Regions from separate parts of the Homo sapiens genome. Here all the other regions are reported to be linked to region 4. Evidence: microRNA targets listed by miRTarBase, many of them from high-throughput screens and not tested one by one. Region 4 holds a microRNA gene; each other region holds the end of a gene's coding sequence.
The links. The annotated mature microRNA hsa-miR-126-5p reads CAUUAUUACUUUUGGUACGCG and lies in region 4 at 2,198-2,218, shown strand. An mRNA with a match to its seed (bases 2 to 7 or 8) in the 3' UTR can be bound and repressed. Matches are read on the target gene's strand: a 7mer-m8 pairs with bases 2 to 8, a 7mer-A1 pairs with bases 2 to 7 and ends in A, and an 8mer does both.

Region 1 (3,101 bases), not on the chromosome of region 4:
AAGAGATGAACCAATGACTAAAGCTGGACCAATGATATTCTTCTAGAAATTGGATTTTAAGTGAATTCAGAAAGAAAAAACAGTTGGAACTTAATTATTCCAATGATGGTTCTTTCAAGAGAGTATTTATTTATTCTAGGTTCTGTGGTTCATAATCAAAGTCTGCTAGCTGGTAAGTTCCCTATTTGAGTGTTTGTATATTGTCTTAGATCATGATTTACAGGTTTGGGATATGCACATTTTGTTTTGCCAGCTGTACTCTATTTATGCTCCCTGAAGAGCATAAACAAGGCTGGGTCTTTATTGTTCATATTATTCCACTGAATTTAGCACTCAATATGTAAGTAGTCAATAAATATTATGTAATGAGTATGAGACTAATCTTAAAAACTTCATTTCTACAAAATGTGATTTGCAAGCCAACTTATGTCCTTTTTGAAGCAAGGGAGTAAATAAATTTTTTTTTTTTTTTTTGATACGCAGTCTAACAACTGTCACCCAGGCTGGAGGGCAGTGGTGTCATCTCGGCTCACTGCAACCTCTGCCTCCCGGGTTCAAGTGATTCTCCTGCCTCAGCCTCCCGAGTAGCTGGGATTACAGGTGCCCACCACCACGCCTGGCTAATTTTTTTTGTATTTTTAGTAGAGACAGGGTTTCACAGTGTTGGTCAGGCTGGTCTTGAACTCCTGACCTCATGATCCGCCTCCTCGGCCTCCCAAAGTGCTGGGATTACGGGCTTGAGCGACTGCGCCCGGCCCTCGAGGGGATAAATACATTTTTAACTGCCACAATTTAAGAATTCTCTTGGGTATGACAGTTGTCTTAAACAGAGCTTACCACTGATACCAGAAAGGGTCTGGATCCAGACGCCAAGAGAGGATTCTTGGATCTTGTGCAAGAAAGAATTGAGTCCATACAGCAAAGTGAAAACAAGTTTAAGTAAAGAATAGGCTGGGCGCGGTGGCTCACACCTGTAATCCCAGCACTTTGGGAGGCCGAGGCGGGCGGATCACAAGGTCAGGAGATTGAGACCATCCTGGCTAACATGGTGAAACCCCGTCTCTACTAAAAATACAAAAAAAAAAAAAATTAGCTGGGCATGGTGGTGGGTGCTTGTAGTCCCAGCTACTCAGGAGGCTGAAGCAAGAGAATGGCGTGAACCCGGGAGGTGGAGCTGGCAGTGAGCTGAGATCACGCCACTGCACTCCAGCCTGGGTGCCAGAGCAAGACTCCATCTCAAAAAAAAAAAAAAAAAAAAAGTAAAACATAAAGAATGGCTACTCCATAGGCAGAGCAGCCCCAAGGGCTACTGGTTGCCCATTTTTAAGGTTATTTCTTGATTATATGCTACACAAGGGGTGGATTATTCAGGCCTCCCCTTTGTAGACCATATGGGTAACTTCCTGATGTTGCCATGGCATTTGTAAACTATCATGGCACTGGTGGGAGTGTAGCAGTGAGGACAGCCAGAGGACACTCTCATTGCCATCTTGGTTTTGGTGGCATTTGGCCGGCTTCTTCACTGCAACCTGTTTTATCAGCAAGGTCTGTATGACCTGTATCTTGTACTGACTTCCTATCTCATCCTGTGACTAAGAATGTCTTAACCTCCTGGGATTGCAGCCTAGTAGGTCTCAGCTTCATTTTACACAGTCCCTATTCAAGATGAAGTTGCTCTGGTTCAAAAGCCCTTGATACAAGAGCTTGTCAGCTTACATACCTTTTTTTTTTTTTTTTTTTTTTTTGGAGACAAGGTCTCACCATGTCACCCAGTTTGGAGCGCAGTGGTACAATCTCAGCTCACTGCAACCTCCGCCTCCGAGGCTCAAGCGATCCTCCCACCTCAGTCTCCTGAGTAGCTGGGACCACAGGTGTGTGCCACCATGCCTGGCTAATTTTTGTATTCTTGGGAGAGACAGGGTTTTGCCATGTTGTCCAGGCTGGTCTTGAACTCCTGAGCTCAACCGATCTGCCTGCCTCAGCCCCCCAAAGTGCTGGGATTACAGGTGCGAGCCATTGCACCTGGCCTAACAACTTGTATATCTAAGAATAGCCTGAAAATAATGTCAGCATGGGCTGTACTTCCCCAATTTTAGGAAAGGAAAGAGGAACTAAAATTCTATTTCAGATATGAGCCTCTGAATTTCAAAAAAAAATTGGGAGAAAATAGACAACAACAAGACAAAAAATAATACACTTTGACCTTGGGCTTGTTGTAGCTTTCCCTGGAAATAAGGTGTGCTTTCTCTCTGCAATCAGATGACAATGGGAAGAGTCTGACTGTGTTTGGGAACTGGTTTACTAAGCCTAAACAAATAAACAATTTTTTTTACTTGCAAAAAATGTCAAGTTACATTTTCTCAAAATTACTTGACATAATACTAACTTAATTGAATGCTTATAAAAATCAAGGAACAAGCAAAATGGTTAGATGTAATAAATTCAAACAAGCTTGAGCATATCAAGTTTTCAAAGCACAGAAAAAGGCATACTGTGCTGAACCACTTACATGTGCTTAAAATGCACAAAGGAGCTCACCTATGACAAAACGGCAGGAAATACAAATTCTCTTCTTTTTTTCTCATTGTCTTTTGAGAAACAATAGACTTACAGTAGTCCTTGAATAGCACAGTCCTCTGGCTTTGTACCTTAACATGTTACAAAGTTCAGTCTTGTGAAAGGAGTGTAGATACCATATTGGAGCTATTCTGAGTCTGGTGCAATGGTTTCTGGAATTTGCCTTGAATCCACACTCGGTGCATTTTCACTTGTTTTTTCCTATTAACTTGTAAGCGGCGATCAACCAGATTTTGCTTTTCATCTAAACTGGCTTTGCAGAACATACTGTGGACTTCCCCTGTGAGACAAAAATGGCAATAAAAGATATGACATGTGACTAGAGATGGGGGAGGTCAGGAGTAGAACACTGATGGAATAACTGACCATCTAAATTTCATTTATACAAGAAACACTCTCTAGAACAATTTGGTGAAGGAAACCTGTGAAACCAAGCGAGTTTCTTCTATTTCACAAAAATACACCATGCATATAAAAATACACCTGTTTACAGACTAACACGGCAGACATCAACAGATATATAA
Region 2 (3,101 bases), not on the chromosome of region 4:
TTTCCACCACCACACCATGGTTTCCCAATAGTTCTCTTTTTGGAGGACTTTTCAATTGATGAGTAAACTGCTTTAGATATTTCAGAACTTCATTCCCCAAATGAAAGCTAATCTGGACAAACTATATATTGCATAGATTTCTCTACAGATTCTTTGCTTTAAAACCTAAATGCAACTAACATAGTGTAATTTTAACCTATTTGCCCCACAGTAAAAACTATCTGTCCTGAAAAATATGATGGATATATCCTGTGATTTTCCAGTTAACAGAATTGTTCTACTTCAAAGATAATTATTATCATATATCAAAATAACCAGCTCAACATAGGACATTACTTCAGTCTTTACTGACTCATAGGCATATGAACTTGTGCCCAGCTTTTTACCTCTTCCACATTCTCCTCCTCCTCCATAAGTGGATGGAATTATTTAACTAAGTTTGATGTAGGACAATTAACCCTTTACAAACATTTACAATTCAGGTTAAGTCACTGACTACCGTGGAAAAAGAAACTCTATATATAATGATAGGGAGCCTACACACTCAATTCAAAATTTAATATTTTTTCCTCCTTAAATAACATGTACTTGTCATGAGGCAGCTATTAGGTTTTCAATAACCACATTTAGGGATACATTCATAGGACTGATTAGATAGTCCAGGTGAAATGGTTATAGAAATAGAGGCAGTGTCATCTCAGAAAACCATTTATATATCAAAGTCTATTTTGATATCTGGGAAGTTTACAAAAAGGCTGCTGCATTCTTCAAACTACTTATGCCTTCTGTAACTCAAGCACTCTTCTCTTGCCAAGAGCAAGCTGAAGCTTATTCATGAAGATAAAGGTGCTTAACGCTAAACTTTTCTTCTAAGCTTAGATTTGGATTGTTTAAGAAACGAATACCCCCAAAAAACCAGCAAGGTCTTTCTACATTTTTACCATCTTAAGATTAGAACCCTATAAACTCATTCATCAACTGTCTTCTTTTTCTGTATTATTCTTGGCACTCAAGATTGTTGAAGTCTACTGCACTTTGTACTTTCACATTCTCAAATAAAAACTTAAGGTTATAAAGTGTGCATAAACATTTTATAAAATAATTTTGTCATTTAACATATTTGGAAATGAGACTTTATACCGCAATTTTACATAAGAGGATAAATATGAATGAAACTTCCTTTTAAAGTCAAATGACAGAAAGCTCAAGCCCTGTGCATTATTTTAAAGTCTGAGAACATTTCTAAATAGTGGAGATGGGACTACAAAAGGAAAACATGAATATTTCAGATGTCTCCCATCTTACAAAGTTATCAATCTGTCAAAGCCACTCCGTGTGTGCCGGAAAATGATCTGGCATAAACCAGTCCTCTCAGTGGAGGAGGTCACAGTGACATTTGTATTATTAACATTTTACACTTCTATTTTTCCAAGAATAGAAGCAATATGTTTAATAATTACCCCTGCCTCAAATCCTTAAACTCAATATCACAGGCACTGAGTATAAGCAAATCTGGGATGTCCTCCAACAGATGTGCAATAGCACAGCTATGTTATTCTCAAAAATACTATTTTTTCCTATAAAATCAAATGCTCAGTGGCCACACTTTTAACAGCTGGCATTAGATGACAGTAATTGAATTTTTTGTGTCACAGCCCATCTAAGCTTCCTTTTAGGTATTTTTTAGTATGTCCAAGAGAAAACACCTGCTTCAGGTTTATTTAGGGGTAGTGACCTATAAGGACATCAACTCAATTTTTAAGGTTAGACTATTGTTGGGTTTACTGAAGAAAAAGGAACGGGAAAAAATTAAATCACAACACACCTCTTTAGGTCAGTTAAAGGCCATATCTCTAGCTGGGATATTAAAAAAAATTAATCTCACCAGCCCAAATTCTAAAAGTTAATGCCACTAGTAACAATCAACAGCAGGAAAAACAAACCTGCTAACAACCAGCCCACTCATTAGCAAAAAAGCAGTTTAACTCAAATACTTAGACCAAAGTATAACACTAAACCAAACTGCCCCACCCACCAGCAAGAAGAGAAGATATAATTACTTAAAAATCAACATAAGCTTAGTATTTCTTACAAGGATAACAATGTTCCAACTCCCGAGAGAGTGCTCAGAAGGACTAAAGGTGGAGTGAAGGCAATGTCTAGGGATTAGTATCCCAAAGTGTTTAAAAACCCAAAGTACCACAAACACACTCAACTTGTCTATGAATTAGAGAACAAGATACTGCTGCTGCTTCTTTTTGTCTTTTGAAATATACAATGTTTTGTAGGCTCTGCCCTTCAATGTGAAAGCAGGACATTAAATTTGAAATTATTTGACAATTAAATGTTTAGGACCATCTAACTTCAACTGCAAAACTAAACAGATCTACCTTGTCCTTCCTTCAAACCACCTCACAAAAATAAGAGAAAACAATTCAAACATGATTATTTTTTTAAAGTCCTTGAAAGTATTAAAACTCTCAGAGAAAAGGAAAGGAAGAAAGAAAAACAAGAACAAGGAGGGAGAAAAGCTTTAAAAGAAAAGTGTTGGGGTGGGGGAGGAATCAATGGGCCTCTCTTTTATTTGGCGACAAGCAAGTGCAAGAAAGTTCATTTGTAATTTGTTCAGTTGTCTGTCTTTTGCACATCTGCATTCTGACCAGAAGGAACTTTGAGGTTTTTCTGCAGCACATGAGCATCTGCGGGCTCTATCCTCTTATAGTAGTTCTTCTTTGTCTCAATAATCTCAAAGCCAAACTTCCTGTAGAAGTCAATTGCCGACTCATTGCTGATCTGGACATGCCTGAGATATAAGAGAGTATCAGAAAAAAAATTAAAATTAAGGTTTCATCAAGTTTTAAGCATTCTCCACAGATAGCTCCAAACATCTGTTACATTCTCTTTACAACTACCAGTAATCAACAAGGGTTAGGCATGCTTACCTAAAACCTTTTGATGACAATTTTACACTTTTAATCTAATTTTTACATTTGTAAGACAGCTGGCTGAGATTAGAAGGCTCAGTGTTTATTCTTGTAGTCAACAAAGGGAAAAGTACCACAGCTATCAAAATTTTTTCACTGTAAGAGGATAAATTATTA
Region 3 (3,089 bases), not on the chromosome of region 4:
CAGCTTATCACGCCTCTGCTTCCTCCATCTTTCTCAGTGCTTCTATGAACAAGTCACTTTTCCTTTGTTATTTATGTTCCCTCCATCTTTTATTCCTGCTTCTAAGTTATTTCTAATTGTCCTTATAGGAATAAACCCAAATCTTGACACAGTTGACATTTTCAAAGTTGAAGAAAAGGTCACTGACGTCAATCTGCTCTTTCTAGAATTTCATGTGTGATGAGGGATAACTGCCTCTGTGAACATTCCTCTTTTTGGCAAGGCTCATTGGTGAGGTTTGATTTGTGTGTAGAAGCAACCTCTGCAAAAATCTGAAAAGGAAGTCTATTCTTCTTAGGAATTTAATTATTTTGAAGTAAGGATGAACTTCTGTAGCAGATTCATATTGTCATTACTTGCCAAATTCTCAGTGCCTTTTTATTCTGTTTTTAAAAAGGAAACAGGAAGAGCGAGTACAGCAAGTACGCAAGAAATTGGAAGAAGCACTGATGGCAGACATCTTGTCGCGAGCTGCTGATACAGAAGAGATGGATATTGAAATGGACAGTGGAGATGAAGCCTAAGAATATGATCAGGTAAACTGACACCAGAGAGAGTGACTTGGAACTTAAGGTGTGTTTTCTTGGCCGGACATAGTGCTTCTGCCTGTAATCCCAGCACTTGGGTGGCTGAGGCGGGCGATCAGTTGAGCTCAGTAGTTCGAGACCAGCTTGAGCAACATGGCAAAACCCCATCTCTACCCAAAATACAAAAAATTAACTGGGTGTGGTGTTGTGTGTGTGTGGTTCCAGCTACTCAGGAGGCTGAGGTGGGAGGATCACTCGAGCCTGGGAGGCAGAAATTTCAGTGAGCCAAAATTGTGCTACTGTTCTCCAACCTGGGTGACAGAGTGAAACCCCATCTCAGAAAAAAAAAAAAAGGTGTCGCTGTATTTTCTTGTTATTTTCCCTGTAGCTTCCTCAGCAGTGAATGAAAAAGCTACTCCTCTGCTCGGGTTCTGCATGTGCTGTTGTTTGTTTCTTCTCTCTGGATTGAAGGACCATATAAGTTATTGCATTCTTTTGTTCTCATACTGGGAGGACATTCACACCCCTGCAGTCACTTGCAAGGGATCTAGTCTCCTTCATTAAGACCAGGTGGAAAGCCTCTAAGGTGTCACTAGAGAAGAGCAGCAGCAGAAGAAAAGGACTTTGTCATGTAGGGAGGAACGGCCCCAGAAGAAGAAGGTGACTGTCATCTCCATCACAGTAGCATCCAGGGCATATTGCTTCCTCTTTAAAATTATGGTGGCAAAGCAGGCAAAATCTCTTTCTTTTTCTTAGATTCTCCCTAGCACAGATTTGATGCAGGGAGAACAAGAAGGACACTAAAAAGTATAATAAATACTTTACCTTAAAAAATACACATTTTTAGGCTGGGTTTGGTGGCTCATGCCTGTAATCTCAGCGCTTTGGCATGCCAAGGCAGGCGGATCACTTGAGGTCAGGAGTTTGAGACTAGCTTGGCCAACATGGTGAAACCTTGTCTCTACTAAAAATATAAAAATTAGCTGGGCGTGGTAGAATAGCTGGAATTTTGTAATTCTAGCTACTCGGGAGGCTGAGACATGAGAATTGCTTGAACCCGGGAGGCAGAGGTTGCAGTGAGCCGAGATTGTGCCACTACACTCCAGCCTGGGATGGAGTAAGACTCTGACTCAAAAAACAGCAACAAAAATGCACATTTTGATCTTATCTCAAACTCACATTCCAGGCTCATGGCTCTGTGCCATGGGCATACCTTGTCTTCAGAGGAGCACGTGCAGATCTTAAGGCTTTCTGTGACGTCTTGCTTCCCGGCTTCCATCCTGCTTTGTTTCAGCAGGCCATGTCTTCCTTTTTGGCACCCCAAAACCAATTATTTACTAGTTTCCTTTGAAGCCAAAACAGAGGGAGGGATGGGGTGCTAATATGATGTCAAGGGTCAACAGAGCCTCTCTGAGAAAGTGACATTTATGTTGAGCCTGAAAGATATATAGGAGTGAGCCAGGAGAGGTTTGGGTAAAAGTGTTCCCATTAGAAGGAACAGCAAGGAGAAACTTGGTTTCTTTAAGGAATGAAGAAATTATCCACGTGGTTGGAATGCAGTATGTCTGGGGAGGGGTGGGGGGAATGTGTGGGTGGTGAACCTAGTCACGTAGGACCTGTGGGTTGTTAGGGAGATTGATGACCACTTGAGATTGATCATGAAAATTAGCAGGAATCACTGAAGAGTCAGTAGCATGATCAGATTTGCTTCTTTACAAGAGCCCTATGGCTGCTGCATGAATACAAGGATTGGAGTAGGGAAAGCTTGGAAGCAAGGAGACCAGTTGGGATGTTGCTGCGGTAGTCTCGCAAGAGATGATGGTGGCTTTAGGAGGATGTTGACATGCCAATAGGTTGGGAGAAGAAGAGATGGGTAGATCTGAGATATAGCTGGAGAAAGAATCACGTGACCAGGTGACTGCCTGGAAGTGCGGGTGAGAGAGTGGCGAGGATGCCTCAGGGTTTTCACTTGAGCCATCACTTGAGCTGGGTGGGAGGGAACTCTGTTTGGTAGGGGAACAGGCTAAGGGTAGGGATTGCAGGGAGGGTGAGTTGAATTGTTAACACAATTATCCCCTTCCATAGTGCCTTTATCTTTCATGCCACAGCAAGACCAAAATCCAATAATACATATAATGTCTTACATTTACATGTCCATCCATGGCAGCACTCACTTCTGGGTCACAGTTTCCTGACCATACAGAATCATTTCAGGCTGGGTGTGGTGGCTCACGCCTATAATCCCAGCACTTTGGGAGGCTGAGGTGGATGGATGTCCTGAGGTCAGGAGTTTGAGACCAGCCTGGCCAACATGACGAAACCCTGTCTCTACTAAAAATACAAAAATTAGCTGGGCATGGTGGCGGGCACCTGTAATCCCAACTACTTGAGAGGCTGAGGCAGGAGAATCGCTTGAACCTGGGAGGCGGAGGTTGCAGTGAGCCGAGATCGCGCCACTGCACTACAGCCTGGGTGATAGAGTGAGACTCTGTCTCAAAAAAAAAAAAAAATCATTTCAATCCA
Region 4 (3,101 bases):
CCTCCTAGAGGCGGCCCTCAGCACCTGTCGGGGACTCCCTGGGGGCTCCTGCTGAGGGTCCTGCCCCGGCCACATGTTCCCATCATTCTTGGGTCCTGCTCTGGGACTCCTGGGCTGACCCCCTCTCCACCCCCGCAGCCGTAGGGTGTGTGCTGTCCGGGCTCACGGGGACCCTGTCTCCGAGTCGTTCGTGCAGCGTGTGTACCAGCCCTTCCTCACCACCTGCGACGGGCACCGGGCCTGCAGCACCTACCGGTGAGTGCCCCACCACACCGAGCTCACCCAGCCCCAGCCTCCCAAGTCGGCCACACATCAGCATGTCAGGGGCGAGGCGGGGGTGAATCCTGGGACCCAAGATGGGAAACTGAGGCCAGAGCCATGAGAGGGCTGCCTGAGATGGGCGACCCAGGGCGGCCGGAGCCAAGGGGTTCCACGATCACCTCCAGTGTCCTAATCCTTGCTCTTGCCCCGACACGTCTCAAAGGACCGCACCTCTAAGAGCATCCCCATGTTTAGAGGGGTCACCCATCCTGTCTGCACCCCTCCACTTCCGGGGGACTAACCCCTCCCTACCCTGGCATCCCTGGCTGCAAGTTCCCATATACACAGAATGGTGCCTGACTCCCCTGGTCCCACTCCACTGGGCACCCCCCTCCACATGACGGCCCCCAGTGGGCACAGATGAGACCCTGAAATGTCCTGTATGCCCACACAAGGGGCACACACCCCTAAGTCTCAGAGTCCTCCTTCCTGGGTGTGGGAGCTCCACCCCCTGCTGGGGGAGGGGCCTGGGAATTCAGACTTCTGGAGGTTTAAGAAGGGCTCCGATGCCCAGGGCCCACACTCTGCCGTGACTCGCCGTAGGCCGGGCACACCCTCTCCTCTGGGCCTGGATGCCCCCACAGTAGGAGACCAGATAGGTGGGGGCACACACAGGCCTGGCCACTGCCTCTGCTCCATGCGGAGTGTGGCTGGGCCTTCCTGCTGTGGCTTGAGTCCCGGCCAGCACCGGAAGGCCCAGGCAGGGAAACGGCTGTGCAGTGACCCCTCAGTGCCATCCCTTGAGGAGAAGACCCTTGGGGGCATGCTGGGGTGACCCTGTGCACTCTGAGAGGGGACTCTAGATGCCCAGCAGGTGACTAAGGGGGAGTAGGATGCCCCTCTGAGCTGTCCCACCCACCCCACAGAACCATCTATAGGACCGCCTACCGCCGCAGCCCTGGGCTGGCCCCTGCCAGGCCTCGCTACGCGTGCTGCCCCGGCTGGAAGAGGACCAGCGGGCTTCCTGGGGCCTGTGGAGCAGGTGAGGGCTATGTCCCTCGGCGCCCGGTGTTAGGAGGGCGACTGTTCCCCAATCTTCCAGCAACGCTCCTGCTGCTTTTCTTGAACCCCGAGCAAAGCACCACCTTGCCGCAGAGCACCCACTCCCTAGCAGCTGCCCCCACAGGGTGCTGGGGACCCAACTGAGCTGGTGACCAGCCTCCCCCGCCCACAGCAATATGCCAGCCGCCATGCCGGAACGGAGGGAGCTGTGTCCAGCCTGGCCGCTGCCGCTGCCCTGCAGGATGGCGGGGTGACACTTGCCAGTCAGGTGAGGCTGGCTCTACCCTGGGGGGCCCTGGAAGGGTCCTGGGCACCTCCTTGCATGTCCTGGGGTTACTGCTGGCCCATGAGTGGGTGGTTGTGAAGGGAGCTGTGTGGGCAGGACCCCTCCCGCAGGCATGGCCGCCTGACACCCCGTTTCCTGCAGATGTGGATGAATGCAGTGCTAGGAGGGGCGGCTGTCCCCAGCGCTGCGTCAACACCGCCGGCAGTTACTGGTGCCAGTGTTGGGAGGGGCACAGCCTGTCTGCAGACGGTACACTCTGTGTGCCCAAGGGAGGGCCCCCCAGGGTGGCCCCCAACCCGACAGGTAAACAGCCCTGGCTGTGCCTGGCCTGGGGAGGCGGGCAGGCAGTGGACATTGCCGTGTGGCTGTTAGGCATGGTGGGGGGCACTGGAATCTGGGCGGAAGGCGGTGGGGACTCCCTCTCCAGGGAGGGAGGATGGGGAGGGAGGATAGGTGGGTTCCCGAGAACTGGGGGCAGGTTGCCCGGAGCCTCATATCAGCCAAGAAGGCAGAAGTGCCCCGTCCCGGGGTCCTGTCTGCATCCAGCGCAGCATTCTGGAAGACGCCACGCCTCCGCTGGCGACGGGACATTATTACTTTTGGTACGCGCTGTGACACTTCAAACTCGTACCGTGAGTAATAATGCGCCGTCCACGGCACCGCATCGAAAACGCCGCTGAGACCTCAGCCTTGACCTCCCTCAGCGTGGCCGGGACCCTGAGCCTCTGCGCAGAGCCACCCGCCCCGACGTACTTAGGCGGCATAGCCCTGAGACCTCTGGCCAGCGCCAGGCAGGCAGCGGGGGCGGCAGAGGCCTGGGCCTGAGTCTTCTGGCTCTGCCTCTCCCTGGGGACAGGAGGGAGCCTGGGGGTGTGGGTGGGGAGCCGGCCGGCCGTGACCCAGCGCCTGGCTCTGCCCGCAGGAGTGGACAGTGCAATGAAGGAAGAAGTGCAGAGGCTGCAGTCCAGGGTGGACCTGCTGGAGGAGGTGAGGCATTGGTGGGGGGGGGGGGGGGCAGGCAGTCCAGGGTGGACCTGCTGGAGGAGGTGAGGTGTGGAGGGGCAGGCAGTCCAGGGTGAACCTGCTGGAGGAGGTGAGGCATCGGGGGGGTAGGCAGGCAGTCCAGGGTGGACCTGCTGGAGGAGGTGAGGCGTCGGGGGGGCAGGCAGTCCAGGGTGGACCTGCTGGAGGAGGTGAGGCGTCGGGGGGGCAGGCAGTCCAGGGTGGACCTGCTGGAGGAGATGAGGCGTCGGGGGGGGAGGCAGGCAGTCCAGGGTGGACCTGCTGGAGGAGGTGAGACGTCGGCAGGGGGCAGGTCTTCACAACAGCAGAGGCCCAGGCCCGGGTACAGGCTCCGTAGTCTCCTGGGACATGGTCCCGACCCACGGATGGCTGGGGGTGGTCTGAAAAGGTCCTGGCCCTGGGGAGGTGGCTTCCTCGCTGCTGACTGCCGAGGGGGCCCTGGCCTGGATCCATGCTGGGCAGAAGCAGC

Region 1: the mRNA of METTL8 is a reported target of hsa-miR-126-5p. Seed matches in the 3' UTR shown: 7mer-A1 at 311-317.
Region 2: the mRNA of NAA50 is a reported target of hsa-miR-126-5p. Seed matches in the 3' UTR shown: 8mer at 1,400-1,407, 7mer-A1 at 995-1,001 and 7mer-m8 at 292-298.
Region 3: miRTarBase lists MBD2 as a target of hsa-miR-126-5p. The part of its 3' UTR that is shown has no 7-base or 8-base seed match.

What each region holds. Positions count from the first base shown.
Region 1 is chr2:171,321,506-171,324,606 of GRCh38, forward strand. METTL8 (methyltransferase 8, tRNA N3-cytidine) reads right to left here. Exons shown (of 10, transcript NM_001321154.2): 10 at 1-2,857. The coding sequence ends at 2,667. Among named protein-coding and RNA genes, the nearest start is that of METTL8, 110 kb to the right of the region's middle. RefSeq lists a silencer at 2,474-2,768 and an enhancer at 2,850-2,949.
Region 2 is chr3:113,719,135-113,722,235 of GRCh38, forward strand. It overlaps NAA50 (N-alpha-acetyltransferase 50, NatE catalytic subunit), which reads right to left. Exons shown (of 5, transcript NM_025146.4): 5 at 1-2,803. The coding sequence ends at 2,626. Among named protein-coding and RNA genes, the nearest start is that of USF3, 24 kb to the left of the region's middle.
Region 3 is chr18:54,157,251-54,160,339 of GRCh38, reverse strand. It overlaps MBD2 (methyl-CpG binding domain protein 2), which reads left to right. Exons shown (of 7, transcript NM_003927.5): 6 at 437-575. The coding sequence ends at 563. Among named protein-coding and RNA genes, the nearest start is that of SNORA37, 64 kb to the left of the region's middle.
Region 4 is chr9:136,668,419-136,671,519 of GRCh38, forward strand. MIR126 (microRNA 126) reads left to right here and starts at 2,184; the gene lies at 2,184-2,268. It overlaps EGFL7 (EGF like domain multiple 7), which reads left to right. Exons shown (of 11, transcript NM_016215.5): 5 at 139-255; 6 at 1,188-1,303; 7 at 1,496-1,591; 8 at 1,751-1,912; 9 at 2,532-2,596. RefSeq lists enhancers at 1,015-1,516, 1,517-2,016.